2 separate regions of the Homo sapiens genome follow, and region 1 is linked to region 2. The links come from fine-mapping of genetic effects on gene expression. A gene starts in region 2. The other region holds a variant in brackets. All regions are shown on one strand. Distances are between the middles of the regions.

What was found. PIP is the estimated chance that this variant, and not a neighbour inherited with it, causes the effect.
Region 1: its variant is fine-mapped to the expression of FNDC1-IT1 in tibial nerve (GTEx, PIP above 0.99).

What each region holds. Positions count from the first base shown.
Region 1 is chr6:159,430,872-159,444,152 of GRCh38, reverse strand. No RefSeq gene overlaps it. Among named protein-coding and RNA genes, the nearest start is that of LINC02529, 54 kb to the right of the region's middle. The variant A/G (reference allele first, on the strand shown) is at 7,523.
Region 2 is chr6:159,236,542-159,244,541 of GRCh38, reverse strand. FNDC1-IT1 (FNDC1 intronic transcript 1) reads right to left here and starts at 3,790. Exons shown (of 2, transcript NR_046831.1): 1 at 3,385-3,790; 2 at 1,213-1,356. FNDC1 (fibronectin type III domain containing 1) reads right to left here. Exons shown (of 23, transcript NM_032532.3): 13 at 5,877-5,988; 14 at 4,585-5,025. RefSeq lists a silencer at 6,214-6,398.

The DNA.
Region 1 (13,281 bases), 200 kb before region 2:
CAAGCTGCTTTCAGTACAAGGGAAGCCCTTTATCCAATTCTAAAACTTTGAGGAAGAGACCCAGTACCCACAGGGTCCGAAGTTGCATGAAGAAATACCTTCCTGTGTTACCCGTAAGAGAGTACATTTCTATTTTGAGGATAACCCAGGATAGAAAGGGGCAGATAAAACCTAGAGGGTGAGTGAAGAGAAAGGGAATTAGGGGAGAAGGAGGAAGGTGACAGAGCAGCATGGAAAGAATGAAAGGCACATTGGAGAAAATGCATTTTCTCAGGTCAATCACACACAAGAAAATACTGGCTCCTAGTTTATTCTTTTAGGAATAAAATATCAAATTAGGATTCGTTCAGGTGAGAGGCATGTTTGTGCAGCTACGGCAGTAGCAGGTTGCCCTTATAGGAATCCGATTCAGAGCTCAAGAATGATTCACCCTATGCCTAGCTTCCTTCCCAGGATCCCCTCCCTTAAACACAGCCGGAGCTGTGTAATTAGACCTGGAAAGCTTCGGCAAAGCCAGATTCCTCATATAAAGTATCCCCACCCCTCCTTGCAAATGATGGAGCCCTTTGGCAAAAGCCATCAGCATCAGATAAGATCTTCAAACCCCAGTGGCTATGAAGTCTCGTCACACCTCCCAGCCTGGTTTCTAACATCTGGTGGGGCTTATTATTTATTTACGGTATTTTTGGCTGCAGCACGAAGATCAGCCCCTCAGACACCTCTGCAAGTGACACCTCTGCAAGTGACACGGCTCCTGAACCTCCCAGTATGATTTACCACCTACAAAAACCTCTGAAAACACAGTGTGTGCACACACATAAACAGAAAAAAAAAATCAAGTCCAAAAATTGTAAATGAAACAAGAAATGACTGGTTGCTAAATGGCAAGCTTTTAGATATTCTTTGGTTTCCACATAAAAATGTATATTTCTGTCCTTGCTGCTAGGCTGTGGGCTTCCGGAGTGAAATACCTTGGTATTTTAGTGCCTCTGGAGTAGCTCTATGCATGGCTCATGGGAGGCCCTCAGTAATGGATGGGGGATAAATAGCAAGCTGGAGGTGAGTCTTGGGTTCACCTTGGCAAAGTAGCGGGCAGGTTGAGGAAAGCAGCCAGGCTTTCAAGGACAAGCAGGCTTATCCAAGGGCAGAAAAATGTCACATGCTGGGGCCCCATGGTGGACTGCAGGGAGTTAACACCTCCTGGAGTTGTTTGAGAATTAAAATAAATGATAGACCCATCTCAGATCAGGTCTGAGAAGGATGGAGGAGGCACCGAGCCATGGCCTTGCTGAGATGCATGAGTGTCAACGTCTCTTTGCTGTCGTCAATGACAGGATCTAGGCTCAGCAGGGTGAGCACCCTGGGAACTTTGCCCTCCCTGGGACTGGCTCCTACCACCTGACACTGTCAAAGCACAGTGGGTTCCTCCTGGGTTTCCTTGTGTTTGGCTTTTTGGCATCTGCCATTGATAGAAGGAGCACGCATCCCCATCTGTCTGTGCCTGCTGTCTACCCCTCTCCTCTGTTTCTGGCTGAGTTTCCAGCTTATGAGGTAGAGATGGTATGTTTTTTTCTTAAAAAACATCATGTTACATTTTAAAAACTTATGAATTTAGCAACTACCTAGTTTAAAGGTTTATTTCTAAGGTCTTTGAGTAGCGCAGTCTAACACATTGCCAAGAAAAAGAAGGTACTTCATAGACTCAGACTAATTGGCAATCTTTATGCTTCCTGCATTGAAAGTTCTTGTCCTCCAGAGGGGATTGAGCCTGATCTAACTTGTCTGCATCGAGTCCTTCTCTCAGGAGACTACATCTCTGGGAAGGCAGGGGCCGTGCCTGACTCACTTGTGTATTCCCCTGGTTTAACTTAGTGCCGGCTCAAAGAGGACACCAAGCTGGTCAAAGAGGTCATGTTCAGCCCTGAGTTGTAGTCTGGGATTCAGGCCGCCTTTGGAAGACGTTCCAAAGATCTCAGAAGGCCCTTGGGGGTGTTGGCATTGCATAACAGGCATGGGTTTGGATTCTGTGGAGGTTGTTTCCCAAGATGGCTGCTACAATCCTGGCCAGTCCCGATGCCCTTTTGACATGTGACTTTGTCTCTACTCCTATCCACAGGTAGAGTTCATTGCCCTTCCCCTCCAGACTGGGCTGGCTGGAGAAACCATGTCAAGAAAGAGGGACCCTAAGAATGAGCCTCCACAAGCAAAGAGAAGCCTTGGAAGATGAAAGACCATGAGTAGAGAGAGGCTCTGCGGAGGGCAGACATCTGAGAGAGGCCATCTGGGGTCTTCCAGAGGAGAGAACACGTGCAACATGCATGAAACTGGGCTGAGCATCCTCGCCGAGCCCTGCCCAGCCAACCCACAGAACTGCAAGTAAATGGGGCGGGTTTCACTTTAAGCCACCAAGTATTGGGCGAGTTTATTACACTGCAATAGGTCACAGATACAAACCAACCTAAATTCAAACTCCATTTCTACACCTACTAATACTGTGATGGTGAATACATTTTTTTTAGCCTCTCGCCTCATATGCAAAATGAGAATAATAATGCCCACCTAATAGAATTAGAACCTTGCCAGCCACAGCTCCCACTTGTAGAAACTTGCCAGCCACACCTCCCACTTGGAATTGCCCATAGCCCAGTTGCAGGGCTGGTCTTAGGTGGTGGAGAATATATTAAGTAGTTTTATCTCCCTACTCTTCCTTAGCTGAGGGGACCAGAAGTAGCTGCCTGACCCCAATGGCTCATGTGAGCGTGTTTAACTCACTCTTGAGATTATAAATGAAGAAGCCCAGAAATTGAAGTCAGGTAGTTGAGCCTTGGATTTTTCAGATCATGTAGAGCCGAGGCCAGTGTCAGAACCCCAATGAGCCAAAGTCACACGGGAACGGAAGCTAAGAGGGAGTTGGAACTCTGAGTGGACATCAAGGGGGTCCATAGAGCAGGTGTGCAGAGAGAAGCCTAGAGAGGCTGCCTGACTGCAGCCAGAGACTGGGAATGGAGAGAGTGTCCCAACTCAATTTCCTGCCTTTGGTTCTGAGAGATTCCCTTGTGCCCCATTTGCTCAAGCCTGTGTGCGTAGGAGTGGGTTGCTTCCTGCCAAGTCATCCCTAATGAAATGTGAAAATGCAAATGCCAGACACAAAGTGGATGTGCAGTTCTTCAAGGTACAGTAGTGTTTTGTTTTGTTTTTTAAGTAATGGATGAACGGAACATTTATCTACTTTTCTCTCAAAATCTATATTCTTTTTTCTCCATAGGTTTGATAACATTAACCTGATGCCTAGGGTCTCAGAAGAAACCAGTTTTGGGGGTCAGTGGGACTCAGAAACTAACCTCTTTCTAAACTTCACACACAAGCAAAAGGTGTTTTTCCCTTGGAGGCCAGAGCTCCGAGGAGTGGGGATGGGAGTTGTGGCCGCCTCTGCCATGAATGTACCCCTGCACTGCCCACTGGTGTTGGGGAAATCTAAGGTCCATACATAAGAAGCTTTGGTTCCTTGATGTTTTCTGTGAATGGATTACCCAGAATAGGATTTTTCCAGATTTGCAGGCTCAAATGAGACGCCTTACAGGTTGGCTTCAGAGCAAGAGTTCTCTGGAAAAGAAGGAATCATAATCCTTTGATAATATTTTCCTAACAGCCACTAGAGGAAGTTTTCAGAGAGTAATAAATCGTGCGTTCTCATTTATATAAAACCTTTTACTCCTAGCTTGGAACACTATCTCAACTTTTTACTAACTAGCAATTTTACTAACAAATTGACTAAATCATTTAGCTTCTCAGCCTCAGCTTTCTTATCCATAAAATCAAGATAGCAGTAGTTAACACCTCCTGGAGTTGTTTGAGACTTCAAATAAATGATATACCTAAGGCACTTTGAAGACTGCCTGGTGGGTAGCTCGCTGAGCCCAGGCCTCAGTGGGTGTTTGATGAATGCCTGCTTTCATTATTTCTGCACCAGTGCGATTTATCTGCCTCTCTTCTTGACGTTTGCTCCATTCCCCAGACCCAACATTCATCTCTTTCTTGGACTAAAGTTCAGTTTTACCTAGCCTCAAAAGTCAATTCTGCTTTCAAGTCCAGCCATAGATCCTGGGTTCTGTGACCCCAGGCAGTACCCTGCAGGGTCAGCTCCCCTATTGACCCCTCAGGGATACTGAGGCAGCCCCTCCCATCTGGCTCAACTCGGCTTTGAAGTTGAGACCCTGACACCCCTCAGCAGGCACTGTCCTTTGAGTTATCCTTCCAGGGGAGATGGTTGGCTATGCACAGTCATTCATTTCTTGCCAAAATCTTTTAAATTGTTTCTGGCCTGGGTTAAGGGGAAAAAGAAGTGAATGTGCTGGAAAAGAACCTTTTTTCATGCTCTGTATGAGTTCATTAGCTCTGTTCTTAAATCAAGTGAGATATCCAGTAAAGAAGGTCTTAGATAAAACATGAGGTGGTGAATCCTGCCTCCTGGGCCCCCTCCCTGGGACTTTCTCTGTAGCACACATGCCTCTTGGTGCCATACCAGTTTCCTAATATTTTTACACTCTCTGCTTCTTTTCCTCGATCAAAATGTTCTCAAGGAAGGCTTTTAGGGATTCATGTCTACTCAGTGGTAAAGGACCATTACTAACGTTACAGTAGTTAGTATTGCAATAGCGGATAAAGCTTAAAGTCAAAGGAATTAATCTTTAATTGTGAGAGTTTGAACATCGATGCCAAACTGATGTTGGATTGAGGGGAGGGTGGGGTGAGGGTGACAGAGTCTCACCATTAGTGAGATAATTAGTGCCTCATTTCTCATCATGGATGTTGACCACTGACTCTGCTCCTGGAGAAGCCTGCTTCAGAACTAACCAGCAAACACCAAGGGCCTACACTGTGCTCAGCCCACTGAAATGTGGCATGGGGTGAAGTTTGTGAGCTCCAACCTGCTAGCATTTCTTCTTTACGGTAAGCCACAGTTATTCATTTAACCTCATTTCATGCTGAATTTTAAGAGAATTAATTTTAAACAACTACACATACTGTTTTCAGGACACTCCTGTTCGGATAGGGTCATACTTGATCCCCTGTTTCCCCAAAGCTTTGACTTGGTATCTGATATGGTTTGGATTTGTGTCCCTGCCCAAGTCTCATGTTAAAGTGTAATCCCCAGTGTTGGAGGAGGGGCCTGATGGGAGGTGATTGGATCATGGAGGCAGAGTTCCTTCTTGCTGTTCTCATGATAGTGAGTGAGTTCTCAAGAGATCTAGTTGTTTAAATGTGTGTAGCACTTCCCCCTTAGCTCTCTTTCTTCTGCTCCAGCCATGTAAGATGTGCTGCTTCCCTTCTGCCATTACTGAAAGTTTCCCAAGGCCTCCCCAGTCATGCTTCCTGTACAGCCTGCAGAATCGTGAGCCAATTTGACCTCTTTTCTTTATAAATTACCCAGTTTCAGGTATTTCTTTACAGTAGTATGAGAACAGACTAATACAATATCTGATGCACAGGCTCCTGTCATAGCCTTTGTGACCCCACCATGGGTTACCACTAGGGTCAGCCTTGCCCCCAGCCTCTGAGGCTGGTTCTGTCTCCCAAGGGGGGATTTCATGATGTTAACTCAGGACCGCTTTCAGCTTCCTACTCTGAGCACAGAGCGACTGTGCTCTGCTGGGTCTTTGTGACTCAATCTCTGCAGGAATCCTTGTCATGTTCCCTTGAGCATGTTCCTGCCTGGCCTCTGGGAGCCCCTGTCCCTACCAGCTGGCACTTTCTATTGCCAGGTGCTCAGGATGCTGTCCTGTTTGCCGACATCTCCTTTGCATTTCCTCTCACCATGTGTCTGTCTGGTCTCTGAGCCCCAGCCACCTCTGCAGTGATTTATGTGAAAGTTGAGAGCACAACCTGCATCAGCCTGATCCTGCACACCCAGCTGGAAAGAACCTGTGTGTCGGTTGAGTTCCCTCCACCATTCTGTCCTATTGATACCACCCAGCCCCAGTGATGGCTGACAGCATTTGCAAAATAAGAAATTGCTGGCTGGTGAATAGTTTAGGAGACCTATTACAAATGAACAGAATCAAAGTAATTAAGATATAAGTATCTTGTCCATGAGAGATGTAAGAAATTAGTCTTCTGTATCTTTGCATCTAGTTTTTGCATGTCAATCAGTCATACTTTTTTATGTTCATTAAAAAACTTGGTCCATGTGGGAAGATTCAATTAATGTTTTTGAGTCATTCATACTTGGATTTGAATAAAGAAGTTGGAAGAGTCCTTAATATCTGGAAAATATTCAAATGTTTCCCTAAAGTTTTCAAAACTATTTTGCTCATGGATTGGGAGCTCACTCACAAATGGACCTCGGTGTTCACTTCCCATTGGTCTGCCTCCGCTAGTAGAGAAAATCGGGCTTGTGTGGCAGTAATTTGGCAAGTCAAGTCCTTCATTCTCACTTCCATGTTTGAAACATGGCTTCTCAGTTGTGCTGTGACTAAGACCCAGTTTGGGGAGTTTAATGGATTCTGGGCTTCATAGACAGGAATCCAATTCATCATTGAAAAGATGAAGTATACAATTGGGATGGATCAGGGAGAGAACTTTGATTACGTTCTATTTGAAATGTTTTTTTTTGTTTGTTTTTTGCTAAACTTGTTAAATAATAACCCTGCTGTTCCAGAGGAAGTGATACTTTACAAAAAGAAGATTCATCTCAAAAAAGTCAAATATAATTATACTTGAGGATTTGAAATTTCCTGATGGAAACAAATCTGTAGAGTAATTTTGGGAAATATGTGCATTTCTAGCTATAACCAGTGTTCCACTGGGTCTCTTAATGCAGGGGTCAAGACATCTGCAAAGTGTCTTCAGATAAGTCCTGGGATGGGTCTCCAGGGGGCTCTTGAGCAAGTCCACCCTGCACTGTGTGGCCCCAACATTTTCTCCCTCTTTTGCTCGGCAGTGGGGGCTCCCCTCCTGTGAAGCTCTCCAAGATGCCCTGCACTGATTCGGGTGCTCCGCAGCGAAGCCCCTTTTGCCAGGTGCCCCTGCCACTGCCCGGCTCCCCAGCTGCTTGGCTGCCATCTGCCTCCATTCCTGCTGCGGAGGCCTGGAATGCCCGGGATACTAGGGCCACTCTGCCTTCCATGCTGAAGAAGGAAGATGTCTCTGGTCCCTTTTGTCCCCAATATTTTACACATACAGAAGAATGTAAAGAATTATACGGTGGTTCACATAGCCACATCTAGATACATCGCAGCTGTTGGCCGTCAGCTCTCTTTCCTTTCCACATATCTGTGCAGCTACCCATCCATCCAGCTTATTGTTTTTAGACTTTTCAAAGTCAGCTGCAAACATCAGTGCCTTTGTTCCCACACATGTCATTAACTGGAGTCCAATATTTGTTGATGTTCTTTTGTGTTCCGTCAGCTGTACTGCCTTGAATGTTGATGTTTGGAGTTTTAAGAGAAAGAAGCTCATTCAGCTTCAACCATAACCCCTAAACCCCCGTTCCCACCTCCGTCTCTCCTCAGGAATCAGATGG[A/G]GGTGGTTCTGGGCCAGAGACAAATCTAAGGGAAAGAATTGCTGTTTCTCCTGCACGGCAGAGGAGCGGCTGCTGGGTAAGCAGCCCTTTCTGGCTGTCTCTCTCCAGGTGAGGTGAATCATCTCTCTGGAGGCTCCCTGAGCTCTCAGGTAAGCAGATTCTGAGCCCCTTCCCCACCGGCTTCAGACTCGAGGGTTCCCAGTGTCGCTGCAGCAGCTGCTCCTGCTGAGGTGTGCAGGGGAAGGGTTTTGAGAGGCTTCTCATCTGCAGAGCTGGTGTTAACAGGCAGACAAGCATTGCTCAGGATAATGCACAGGGGCTGGAATGGGAAGTGTCTGGCACTCAGAGGTGACCTGGAGGCCTTGAGGTGCACAGTTTGTCATCATCGTAATCAGAGCTGAGATGCACCAAGCACCTCCCAGCGCCAGACCCGGGCTGAGAGCTCACTGCGTGTGCCTAGCGTGCTCTTCATACCATCCTCGCTCTATCATTATCCCCTTTGCACAGATAAGACCTGTTGGTGACCATGATCTTGGCAGCTGTGATAAGAATATGTATAAACCCAGCCAGAGGAGCTGGTTAGGACAGATTTTTCTGGCAGAAAGTGGGGTTGGTGGTGTAAATTGTAGGTTTTCAGGTGCGGTGAAGCCAACAGATGAGACGATTGCCATTGTCACTCAGTTCCCGAGAGGAGGGTCACACTATGATGCTCAGGGCCCCATGCGGAAGCACCAGGGTTGGGCAGGTGGCAGAGAAGCTAGAGGAAACACAGGCAAGAGCCTCGGCCGAGGTTTCCGAGGGAAGAAACTGGGGAGATAGGATGAGCAGGCTTAGGACCGGCTAGTGTGAATAATTTCTGTTGGGTCTGGGGCATAGGGGCTGTTTCCAGTTGTCTGGCACCTGGCCCTGGGGTGATTACGGCAGGGGAATAGAGGCCCAGCATGGCAGAGCCTGCTAGAGGAGACAGGGTCTGCATGTGGGCTCTGGACTGTGTGGTTTGCACATGAAGGGCACACTCATGGGGGAGTCATTTGCTGTCTCTAGGACTTGACTAGCCCTGGGGGGAGCAGTCCCTCCAGTGTCAGTGAGGATCTAGGTGTCAAAATTTCAGAAACACGTGGTTAATACTGTGGGATGGGGCAGGAAGCACCTATCAGGTATATTTGAACATCTTCTCGCAGCCATGCAACCTTCAGCACCCTACGGCACCCACGTGGTTCCTCGTGAACTGTTAATCAGCACATTTCTGGCCATTTGGAGAATCTAAATGTGGAGTCCTTGAATGATACTCCAGAGCTTCATGGGGCCCAAGTGAGACTGTAAGGTCCTTCTTATGGCTCCCAGGGAAGTGGCCACTTTCCACTGCCTTTGGACTAGCCACCAGAGTCACTGTTGCTCTGCCCCTTGGCTTGCCTTGAAACGCTCTCTGAGATACTCGCACTTCTGGTGAGAAGGTGAGTGTGGTGTCCAGGTGCTCACTGTGAAGATGGGCAGGCATTATTTGGAAGAAGTGGAAGAAATGGGAACTTGGAAGTGACTGGGGAGGCCAGAAGAGGGGAGAGGGAAGGGGGTCCCAGGGTGGGAAGTCACTGTTGACAGCTTGAGGGTTCTGTGTCCATTCCAGTGCAACAGGGTGTGTGGGAGCGCCTCTCTTGTGACATTGAACAGGGAACGGGAGAGCATGGACTTGTTCTCTAGGCCTCTGCATTTCTTTGTCCTCTGCAGATAGGGCACAAGCTGTGTTGGCAAAAGCTGGTAAAACACTGCTAACAGGCAGAGAAACCATACATTCAACAATAAGTATATCTAGCAAGGCATTAAAAAATGGAGAGTAGGTTTTTGTGACTAAAAAAGTCTACCTAATGTTAAAATAATAGGCGGTGTTAGTCAAACTGGTAAAAAGAAAAATGAAGCAATCAGGCAAGTCTGCTGCTTGAATTCATACAGACCCAACAATTGACCATTGTTTGAACACTCAATGTCTTAGCTGTTCCTTGTTAAACACACTGTTGGCACAGCAAGCATTTGAGAGAAGAAAGCTTCAGTAATCTAGAGCCACCGCCAAACAGTAGAGCAGTAGAGCAGATTCCTAGGATGATTGAGCATGGGGCTGTTGACAGGCAGGCTGTGGGTGTTGGCGGGTAGAGGGAGGCATAGGCTGAGTGTCTTTCCACGCATTTAACACCCCAGCTCCAGTCTTGGCAGCTACTGTTCCATGAGCAGAATGGAGTTCAATGAAACTGCTTTTGCAAAGACTATGACAGTGAGAAAAATCTGACATAGAAAAATTATGACAATGAAAGAAATCCGACCTGACTCCACCTTGCTTCTAACCTCCAAGCTGTCCTTGTTTGTTTCTGGGCATAGGCCAAGCCAACTGTGGGAGGAATTTAGTTTAACTTTAAAGCAAAGATGATAACAGTCTCTTCTTGAAACTAACTACGTCCTGGCTCAGGGACCAAATATGTCTTTGCAAGACTAACAAATTAGCCACAAGATTAGAATTATGGTTCAGGAGCCTTGTAGCCAGAGGTCACAAGCTTTGTAACTTCCCCATTTGCTCCTATAGGTGACATCACCATTGCAAAATCTAAGATTGGTACTTGAGGTATTTTTCAGACTGCATTCCAATGAACAAGCTGGTGCCACCTGGACTGGTACCCCATACCATGAAACTGGCTCATCTGACCTTGCAATCCCACCCAGGAACTGACAGAGTGTAAGAAGACAGCTATGATTTTATCCCTAACCCAACCAATCAGCATTCCCCATTCCCTAGTCCCCTGCCTTGAGAAACCCTAGCCTCTGAATTCTCAGGGAGACTGATTTGAGTCATAAACTCCCATTTGCCACTTGGCTAGTCCTGTGATAATTAAACTCTTTCTCTACTGTAATACTGCTGTCTCAGAAGATTGGTTTTATCTGTGCAGCAGGCAGGATGAACCCATTGGGCAATTATAATAAAGCAAATGCCAAGGGGCAATTGGCCGCCATCAGTACCATCAGTATGGGCTTATCGGAAGCTGACAGTCACGAAGAGTGAGAGGGTAGGGGGATTTCATTTTAATAAGTTTTCGGATACACTTACTGTATTTAGAAAACAAAGAAAAGTTCACAGCAGGAATACTGTAATTACACTATCTGCCATTCTTGGGGGGATGCAAGGAAATCTTTAAAACAGCAATGCCACAGACACACAGCAGTTTTTTACCTTTTAAATATGAATTTATAATAATAAATCTCATATTTATTTTGGTACATATTTCTCCCAATTAAAAACAATATATAAAGCCTGATCCTAATTAGGAGTAAGTCAATGTCACTTTGACAAAACCACAAAAATATTGATTTATTGACTATTTTTAAAGAAATAAGCCTTATTCTGTACACATTTTATCTGTATTTACTGAATTCTTACTTGAATTTAAAACTTTTATAACAGAATGCAGACAAGAAATAACTTTTGTAATCTCAAAAGTGTTTAATGAACAGATTCTCAGAAATATTTATAATTAGCACCTTTTCTCTTCAGCAACATTAAAGCTAGTTGTTCATCCCCTTAAAATAGTTCCTTGATCCCCCACCTTTGTTAATACCATTAATCGGTTTATAACCAGCACAAAGAAAACTCAGCCTAATGCATCAAGATGGATTCTCCATTGGCAGATCTAAGTTAATGATGTGTAACTTAATGTTTTCTTTTTAAAAAATCAAACACTGTTGTGTTTAGTTTTGGTTGTAAATATAAGTTCTTGGCAAAATCTGTCATATGATAAAGTAGTTTTAGAAATCTGTATTAAAAAATTAAAGTAGGTAGAATACAGTGACCTCATCCCTCTGCACCTGTGCTTTGGTCCCCATTCACATAGAAGGAGGGATTGTTCTCTGCCATCTACACCCCTCTTCTCCCATCTATAACAGCCTGGATTACTTTGATATATTTTTTAAAAATTTTTAAAAAGATGGGGTCTCAGTATATTGCCCAGGCTAGTCCTGAACTCCTGGGCTCAAGCGATCCTCCTGCCTCAGCCTCCCAAAATGCTGGGATTACAGGTGTGAGCCACCATGCCCAATCAACCAGGCTTACTTTGGGATATTGTTTTTGGGCTTTTAGCTTAGGGCCACGTTTTGATTGGATTAAGCCCATTAGCATATGTGAAAGATTATATTTTCCAAGGATGACTGTTCTTCTAGAAGTTTCTTCTAGAATCTTGCCCCTCTTCCATCAAGAGATAGAGTCTATGTACCCTACCTTTGAATATGGGTGGGTTTTTGTGACTGTTTCAACCAATAGAGTAGGGCAGAAGAGACATTATGTGATTTCTGAGTTTAGACCACAGAAATGCCAAAAACTTACACCTTATTCTCCTGGGACACTGTATGCAAGCAGTCTCATGGCCCGGAGGCCTCCATATTGTGGGGAAGCCCAAACTGGCACAATTGGAGAGACCACATAGAGAGGCCTCAAGACTGCCTTAAGGAAAAAAAGATGGCCAGGTAGCTCCTAGCACCATCGACTCCTCTTCCCCACCACTGTTCTAGCCCCAACCACCATCTGACTGCAAATCCATGAGGGGCCCCAGGAAAAGTCACCTAGCTGAGCTTACTCAAATTCCTAACCCACAGAAACCATGGGAGATAAGTGATTTGTTATGTTGCAATAGATAACCAGAACAGCATGTCTCATCTCTGTGGCCACAGTGATTGTTGCAGGATAGACACATGACCTAATCCAGTCTAAATCAGTGCAAGTCTTAATATGTTTGCAAGGCATGCTAGACTATAGACATTCTCCTCTCCTCTGGGCTCAGTAAGGTGCTGTAGCCAACTGACTACAGTAAGGGGAGACAGCCTGAGAACCACTCTGGCACACAAAAGAAGAACAGAAAGGGATCATGATGACATCATTGATCCTTGAATCAAATCTTACCCGAAGCTACCATTTGACTTACTCAACACCCATGAAGCATCATTTATAGTCAAAAATGTTCAGAGTCTCAAGTCACTATACAGATACAGAATTCAATCTCTTGTTTGATACCCAAATCTTTCCTATTTTATTCCTATTTATTTCCTATTTTATTCCAGCCAGATGTTTTCAACCTTCAATGACAGACCTCACCACCTGAAGCAGGTGTATTCCAGCCCCAAGCAGCTTTGTTAAGCCAAAATCTGTCTCTCTGCAATAGTTGTCATGAGGTAGAGTGGAAAATATCTAAGAATGCTATGCATAAGAAGAGTATCTAGGTTTCAGCAAGTTTCTTAAAAAATTGCCTGATATTCAAATTGCCAAGATGGAGAAATATGGGCTGAATTTCATTTTAATCTGCTGAATTGACAATTGGTTGAATGCTTTAAAGCTAAAGAGCATTGATTCATTGATCAACCTAAATCAGCATCAGATAGGAGGAGCTGCTAGTCTTTGGTCTCCTGCTCCTGTCCATATGGAAACCAGAGACTTGGATAGGCCTTTGAGATCATGATAAATAAACCCATGAGTGGCACGAGGCTGGGAGGGACAACTATTAACGTTGGATGAGAAATTGAGCTTCCAGAATACTTTGATGCACTTTGCTAAACATTTACTGAATTAGACAAGATAAAATTTAAAAGAGATAAATATAAAATCCTGCTCTTTAGTCTTCTAACACTCAAGTGTATACATATGAGATAAGTCGAAAGTGACTGAGTTCAGAGGTAACACATGAGGAAAGATTTAGGAAATTTACTTGTCAAAAATCCCTGCCAGACAAAAGGAT
Region 2 (8,000 bases):
CTCCACCCACAAAGGGCAATGGCAACCTCGAGTAGTCTGTCCAGCCCTCCTGGGATCACAGTAAGAAGCCCCCAGCTCCTATTCTGAGGCCCAAGAGATGGCCCTTGAGGCAATGACTCTGGTGTGTTCTGATGCAGCCAATGAATGTTAAGCAGAGAGAAGTTGTAAATTATCCATCCGTTTAGGGGTGGAATGGCCATTTCATGAAAAAGTATTAAACACAAACTTTCCTTTGGTCATTCCAATGTCAATATACCTGGGATCCAAGACAAATTACTTCTGAGCTTATTCAAATCAGTTTTCAGGTTCACACCCTGTAAACTTTGGGATTATCTTGCCATTGTTTCCTGGCCTACCATTTTCTTTCCCTTGTCAATTTAACCTTTAGGAATGTCGTCTTGCTTTTCCTCATTATCAGTTCAGTGTCATTTCTTTTCATTATTGCTTTTCGCCAGATAAAAAATAAATACATTGTAAGGTTTTTGCATCACAGGGTGAACAAGAAAAGGGAAAAGTATATCATTTCCTTCATGGACTCTGGTGTTATGGGTAACTCCTTGAGGTGCTGAAATACTCCAGTGCATGCAGCAGGCCACAGAAATGATGCTTTTACCAGCAAATGAGTTCACTTCCTGAGATGAGTGACAGTTAAGTCCTCTGGCATTAAGTAAACAATCTACTGGGTGATTTTGGTGTTCTTTTTCTTAAGACCAAATAAACATAGGCATAATTTTTCTAAAATAGAACCATCCTGGCTCCAAGTAAAAATAACTTTCAGATGTAATGAAATATATTTACAATTAAAAAAAAAAGTTGACCACCTTACTTTGGCCCACCTGAATGTCATTTTAAACCATTCAGAACTATGTAAAACTGGATATTTTACAAGTCAACTCAGCACCAATGTGAAAAGCTTCAGCCTCTTCACATAAACATAGTTGCCAGCCATCAACCATAGTCGTTTTGTTTATTCTCTTCAGTAGTTTATCAAGTAGACATGAAAAAAATAAGTGAAAAATGTCACCAAAGAAGTAAGGCTTTTGCTCCAGAGATATTACAAAATATTTTTAAAAATTATTCTCAGTAGAAGTTTAGAGACAGAAGGTAAATGACAGCCATTTGAAACTCAGGGATATTTGCACATTGTACAGTTGGTCCAGCTCAAATGAATTTTTGAATTTCTCAGTATTTTCTATCTGGAGACCCAGCTGTGGTGGGGAAGATCTGTTTTCCATAATGACTGATGTTTTTCTGCAACTTTTAACAAGGTCATGCTACAAATTCTTGAAGATGTTCATTTGGCTCATCACATTCCATATATATCATCTATTATCAGATTTGCTGTAGATACAGAACCTGAAAAAAAAAAAGAGCACTGGCTTTTAGGACATGGAAAATGCCTATACCTTAAGGTCTTGCTTGGATATCCAAAGGTACATACTTAGGTACCACAAGGAATTAGAGATGAAGCAGAAGACATTGTCTCAACTGCAAGGAGTTTATTATCCAACAGAGAAGTCAGATCAAGTAGAACAAAACCAAACAAACAAAACAAATGTTCAAGGCAGCATTATTCACAATAACCAAAAAGTGGAAATAACCCAAATGACCACTGACTGATGAATGGAAAAAATGCTGTATATCCATACAATGGAATAAAAAAAATGAAGTACTGATGTATTCTATAATGTGAATGAATCTTGAAAACAATTATGCTAAGTGAAAGAAGCCAGACCCAAAAAGCCACATATGACATGATTCCATTTATACAAAATGTCCCAAATAGGTAAATCCATAGAGAGAGAAAGTATGTTAGTGGTTTCCATGGGTTGGGAGGAGGGAGGAATGAGGGCTGACTGCTAATGAGTACGGAGTTTCTCCTGGGGTGATGAAAATATTATGGAATCTAATAGTGGTGATCATTGCACAACTGTAAATATATTAACATCCACTAACTTTAGAAGAATGAACTTTATGGTATATGAATTTTATCTCAACAGAGCTAGTATTAATACATTTTTAAAATTTAATTTCTTTTTTTAATTTTTATTTTTAAGTTCTGGGGTACAGGTGCAGGATGTGCAGGTTTGTTACACAGGTAAACATGTGCCATGGTGGTTTGCTGGACAGATCAACCCATCACCTAAGTATTAAGCCCTGCATGCATTAGCTATTTTTCCCAATGCTCTCTCTTCCCCTACCTGACCCTCTGACAGGCGCCACTGTATGTTGTTCACCTCCCTGTGTCCATGTGTTCTCATTGTTCAGCTCCCACTTACAAGTGACAACATGCGGTGTTTAGTTTTCTGTTCCTGTGTTAATTTGGTGAGGACAATGGCTTCCAGCTCCATCCATGTCCCTGCAAAGCACATAATCTCATTCCTTTTATGGCTGCATAGTATTCCATGGTGTATATGGACCACATTTTCTTTATCTAGTCTATCGTTGATGGGCATTTGGGTTGACTCCATCTCTTTGCTATTGTGAATAGTGCTGCAATGAACATACATGTGCATGTATCTTTGTAATAGTAAAAATTTAATTTCTTATCACAAAAAAATACCACTTTCATGGTGAGTGCTCTTACTATAAAGAAAGAAAAAAGAAGAATACTAACAATAAAGGAGTGGGAGTGGGAGGGAACTTTGGGAGGTGATGGATGTGTCTGTGGCCTTAGCGGGATGATGATTTTGTGAATGTATTCTTATCCCAAACTCATCGACATGTATGGATTAAATATGCAGAACTTTTTCTATGCATACATCAAGAAAGTGGTTTAAAAAGATTAAAAGATAAAAATAACTATGATTACAGTTAATAAAGAAGAAAATGTTTAATGAAGTTGTTAGTGAAACAGTAGAAATAAGAAAGGGCATATGGAAGTCTTTTTAAACTAACAAATTATAGTGCATTAAAATGCGATATGAGGATGATATGTTACTGTCCCCACATTTAACTTTTCCATAAGACTGTGTATTGATTTGTACTTATTTTCAAATGCTGTCCAGAGGAAAATTATTCTTTAGCTTCGACTAGGGAATCAGGAGACTGGACAGGAGTGAACATATATATGTTATGATTTGCAAAGAAAATAAGAGGCAAAAATGCCAGGAAAAATATTGACTTTCATGCCAAATAAAAGTCCAAAAATATAAAGTAGATGAAGAGAACATGTTGGAAGGCCTAAATAAAAGCAGACAAAATAAAATGTGAAATAATAGCAGCCGTAATTAAAATCAAATCCAAAATAGTCAATTTTTGTTTACGACCAATTACTAATTATGTTTTAATTATATTTCAGTCTTTAAAATTAAACACATTAATGCATGCAGAGGTCAGATGTCAATACTAGAAATTCAAAGGTAAATTCAAATTTATACTCACTGGGTCAATGGACAGAGTAGAAATTTTCTTCCCATTGTTCCTCTCCCTCTGTACGTGTTTCCATGTTTTTTTGGTGTGAATTTTTTAGATGTGTCAAGTTTTCCTGTTTATTTGTAACTTTTTCACGGAAAGACTAACTTCCAACAGAATTCCCATTTTGGATACAGTATTCATGTTCAAACTGATTGGGCTTATCATAGTCAATAACGTTGCATAAGAATTCCAGCTTGATTCCTGAAAGGAAACATCTTCACTCTGCCTTGGTTTAAAAAGACTTAAGCTTTATAATTGACATTGCAATTCATTTCAAACTGAGGGAAAGAAGATGAATCTCTCTCCTCCATGCCTGATGCAAATCTAGAATGACTTCTTCCAAAGCAGCTTGAGCAGGGGACTGAGCAGAAAAGATGGAGATATATTGATATACGGGCTCCACGATGACCTGGATAAAGGTCTCCTAGCTCCTGCTCTTCAGGGAGAACAAGCCATTTTCAGAAGGAAGACAGACTTACATCAGGGGCGGCAGGATAGTGCAGATCAGCAGAGAAGGGAAAATGGTGCATTCTTACCCAGTGGAAAGCCCACACTCCCACAGGAAGCCCAGCTACATGAGGATTGGCATTCTCCAAAGGAGGGCTGATCAAAAAAGTGCTCAGCTGCCGAACATGCTAGGGAAACATTCCTTTTCTTGGAGATTCTCAACAAGACTATTCAGTGATCTAAGTATTACAACAGTAAGAAACTTATCCAACCTTGTTTAAATCACATAGCTAATCACAGAACCTTTTAAGTATATACATATATATTACAACCACTAATCTACAATATCCATTGGAACACACTTTGGGAAATGCTAGTCCAAACAAATAATGTCACAAGTTTCAGCTAAATTCTTGACTTGGGTTGTGATAAGCATCACCAAGTAAACAAAAGATGCCCAGTTAAATCTGACTTTAAGTGAACAGGAAATAATTTTTTTCATATAAATATGTCCCATGTAATATTTTTATTTGCTAAGTCTTCCAACCTTAGCTGTGGCATGGTACTGTCAAACAAACCTGCTGGGACCAAAAATGCATCGGGTTGCTGCTTTGCTGTGCACGGTGCTCATACCTCCCCTGCAGGCTCTGCCACCCTGCTCTGAGTTGCGGCGTGCTAGTGTGCCTGGTAAGTAGTTAGCATTAGAACAAAGGCAGTTACCTTCTTCAGCGTAGCACTCTGGGATCCCATTGGAGCTCATTATCAGGTTGCCATCATCGTCGTGCCGTTCCAAGGTCCCAGGGGGACAGGTGGGGATGGGAGTGGTGGGTGTGGGGGTGGTGGTGGTGGTTGTCCGCGTAGTGGTTCGGACTGTGGTTGTTGGACGCCTGGTGGTCGTGCGGCGGGTGGTGGTCGTGCGGCGGGTGGTGGCAGTGGTGGGCCTCGGGGTTGTAGTGGTAGGCAGGGGCGTCGTAGTAGTGGTGGGCTGCATGGTAGTGGTAGGGGGATGGGTGGTTTTTTTGATGACCTCCAAGCCCACCAGCGGCTTTCCTCCAAGACTCAAAATTGGCTTATCTTGGGCATTGGCCAGAGGTGTGCCATGTCGCCCCTGCCCAAAGAGTGGGAGGCCGTCAGGACTCACCACGGGGGTCCCTTCCAGATCTGAAACAAAATCAACCAATAGCTATGCAACAAGGTGAAGCAATCCAGAGAAAATAAAAAGCAAGCAATAAGTGTCTTCTCAAAGCTTATGTATTATCATGTTTTAATCAGTAAAAGGCAAAGGGATAAATGAATATTGCATCAGTATGCTCCACGATCCTGAGATAACTCTTGTGTCTAGCAAAGGAAGAAATACTTTCCTTTGCCTCATTCCTATGCCTAAGGGGGAAAAGTGTTACTTTGGATTAAAGGTGGAAAACTTCTTCTGTAAAGGGCCAGGAAGCGAATATGTTAAGCCTCATAGGCCGTATGGTCTCTATTGCAGCTACTCAATCCGCTTTTAGAGTGCAAAAAAGAAGATAGACAATACATAAACAACACATAAAAAATGAGTTAGACAGTGCATAATTAAGTGAGTGTATTGTGTTCCAGTAAAACTTTGCGTATGGACACTGAAATGTGCATTTCACGTAATTACCATGCCACAAAATATTCTTTTTTCTGGCAATCATTTAAAAATGTAAAAACTATTCTGAGCTCATGGGTCTTACAAAAATAGGTAGTGGGCTACAACCTACAGGTTGTAGTTTGCGGACCCCTCCTCTGAAAGGGCCAATTTAAGAACAAAGTAAAGGGCCACATTTTCTAGAGGGTGCAGCCTGCAGGAAGAGAACTAACGCTCTCTGGGGGAAACACCAAGTTCTGCCTCTTTTGAGGCTCTTCTTCTCACATGGGTAAAAGTAACTAACCCATGACCATTCATTATAAATGAGGGGGAGAAGGAAGATAGAAGCTGTAATTCTATGGCTAATTCAGTAGGCTTTTATTCTTTAAAAACCATTCTCCCTTACCTACAATGGTTCGACCATCTCCTCCTAGTTTAATCCGAAGAGGATTTCCATGTGAATCTTGGAGGTACCTTCCTTCTGCATTCAATACTAACCCACGATCAAGGTCCACAACCTAAATCCATGACATAGATTAAAGAATATATTGGACATTTTGAAATGATCACATTAGTCCAATTATATATGTATATACCCCTGAAGCTTCCACAGAAGGAAACCGTAATGTGAGTAGAAGACATTCTTTTTGTCAATATCATTCATAAAGTCTTAAAAAGTAAAGTACAGGCCGGGCGCGGTGGCTCACGCTTGTAATCCCAGCACTTTGGGAGGCCGAAGCGGGCAGATCACGAGATCAGGAGATCGAGACCACGGTGAAACCCCGTCTCTACTAAAAATACAAAAAAATAGCCAGGCGCGGTGGCGGGCGCTTGTAGTCCCAGCTACTCAGGAGGCTGAGGCAGGAGAATGGCGTGAACCCAGGAGGCAGAGCCTGCAGTGAGCCGAGATCGCGCCACTGCACTCCAGCCTGTGTGACAGGGCAAGACTCCGTCTCAAAAAAAAAAAAAAAAAAGTACAAAACAGTCATCTTTCATATTATAATTGCTTACCCATATAACATGTAAATTGTTTTAAGTTTCTCAAATCACAAAAGATGTTCAAAATATTTTTACCATTAAGTACATTGTGTCTAATGCTGGAAAGAAGGAAACAATGTGTCTCTCAGTTGAGGGAAGAGATTAAATAATTTGTGGCCCATCCATGTGGTAGAATATTATGCAGACAATTCTACATACGTTCTACGTATATGTGAACTCAGATTACAGGGCTGGTTATTTTGCAAAAATAAAGATATATCCATTTGCATATATAAGCTTAAAACTGCAGAGAAAAAAATTATGGAAGGTTATACCGCAAATGGTTAACAGTGGTTATCTTTGAGAAGTAGTTTGGGTGAAGAATGTTTATTTTCTGTTTCATATATTTCAATATGAATTGTTTTAACTTCTTGCAATGAATGTGAATTGCTAGCATATTAAAGACATAAAATCTTTCCATTTTGCTGTTAATGTTAAAAATCAAAGTTGCTGTAACAAAAACAATATAATTTGTAATCACGTTGCCTAATATAGTATGCATGCAGAAAACGTCACATTCTAAGGAACTGTAAAACTTGAAGAAAGCTATAATTATCTCTATTAAGGAACAAGCTCGTGCTCTTTGCTGGTGGTTCTCAAAGCATGGTCCTGGACCTGAAGCCTCAGCATCACATAGGAACTTGTCAGATACTCAAATCACCCAGCCCTACCCGAGACTTGTATTTGACAAAATCCTCAGTGATCCTGAGCTGGCTTAAGTTTGAGAACCACTGCTTTAGACACTCAGGCTACTGGAGGAAGCCCTGCAAGCAAGCCACTTTGGTGGGTATTGTTTTGGCATTAAAATAAAATTTATATAAACTCTATTTTGAAATCTACCCCATGCTGTTTCCATTCAAAATTGTTTGCAATAGCATTTTGCTTTAATGTGCATTCTTCCTACTATAAATTTCTCTTCCTTTAAGAAATGATAACATGCATCTTTAGATCACCTATGACTGAAAATGTCATAGTCTTTTAGTACATTTCCCTAAACCTTATCATTATAAATGGGAAGTTTTGGTTGGGAATTACAGTATAAATAATTTTTTTATTCTTAGAAAAAGTACTTTAAATTCCTGAATATTGTAAAGTGTTCTGTTACCCTCAACCCACCAAAACCTCCTAAACATTTATCTTAACCCCAAGCAATTAAAGCTGTTTAGACATACATGAAATACTAATACATAATTTTAGTCCAACACTTGTTGGAAGATTCAAAAGATGATCTAATAAAAATTTCCAGTATCATTCAGGGTTTTTTGTTTGTTTATTTTTACCCTGTGTCCTTTGAGAAAGGATTTGAGATGACTTACAGAAAATATGTGTAATGTTTAATCAAACAATAAACAAAACCTAAAAATAAAATGAAGCTACCAGGACAGGGAAAATATAAGTTCCTTTGAACGGCCATCCATTGGGTCTATAATTGCTATGGTTGGGCCATGCATTCATTTGACCTTCCTAACCAGTCAAGGCAAATGAAAAACGA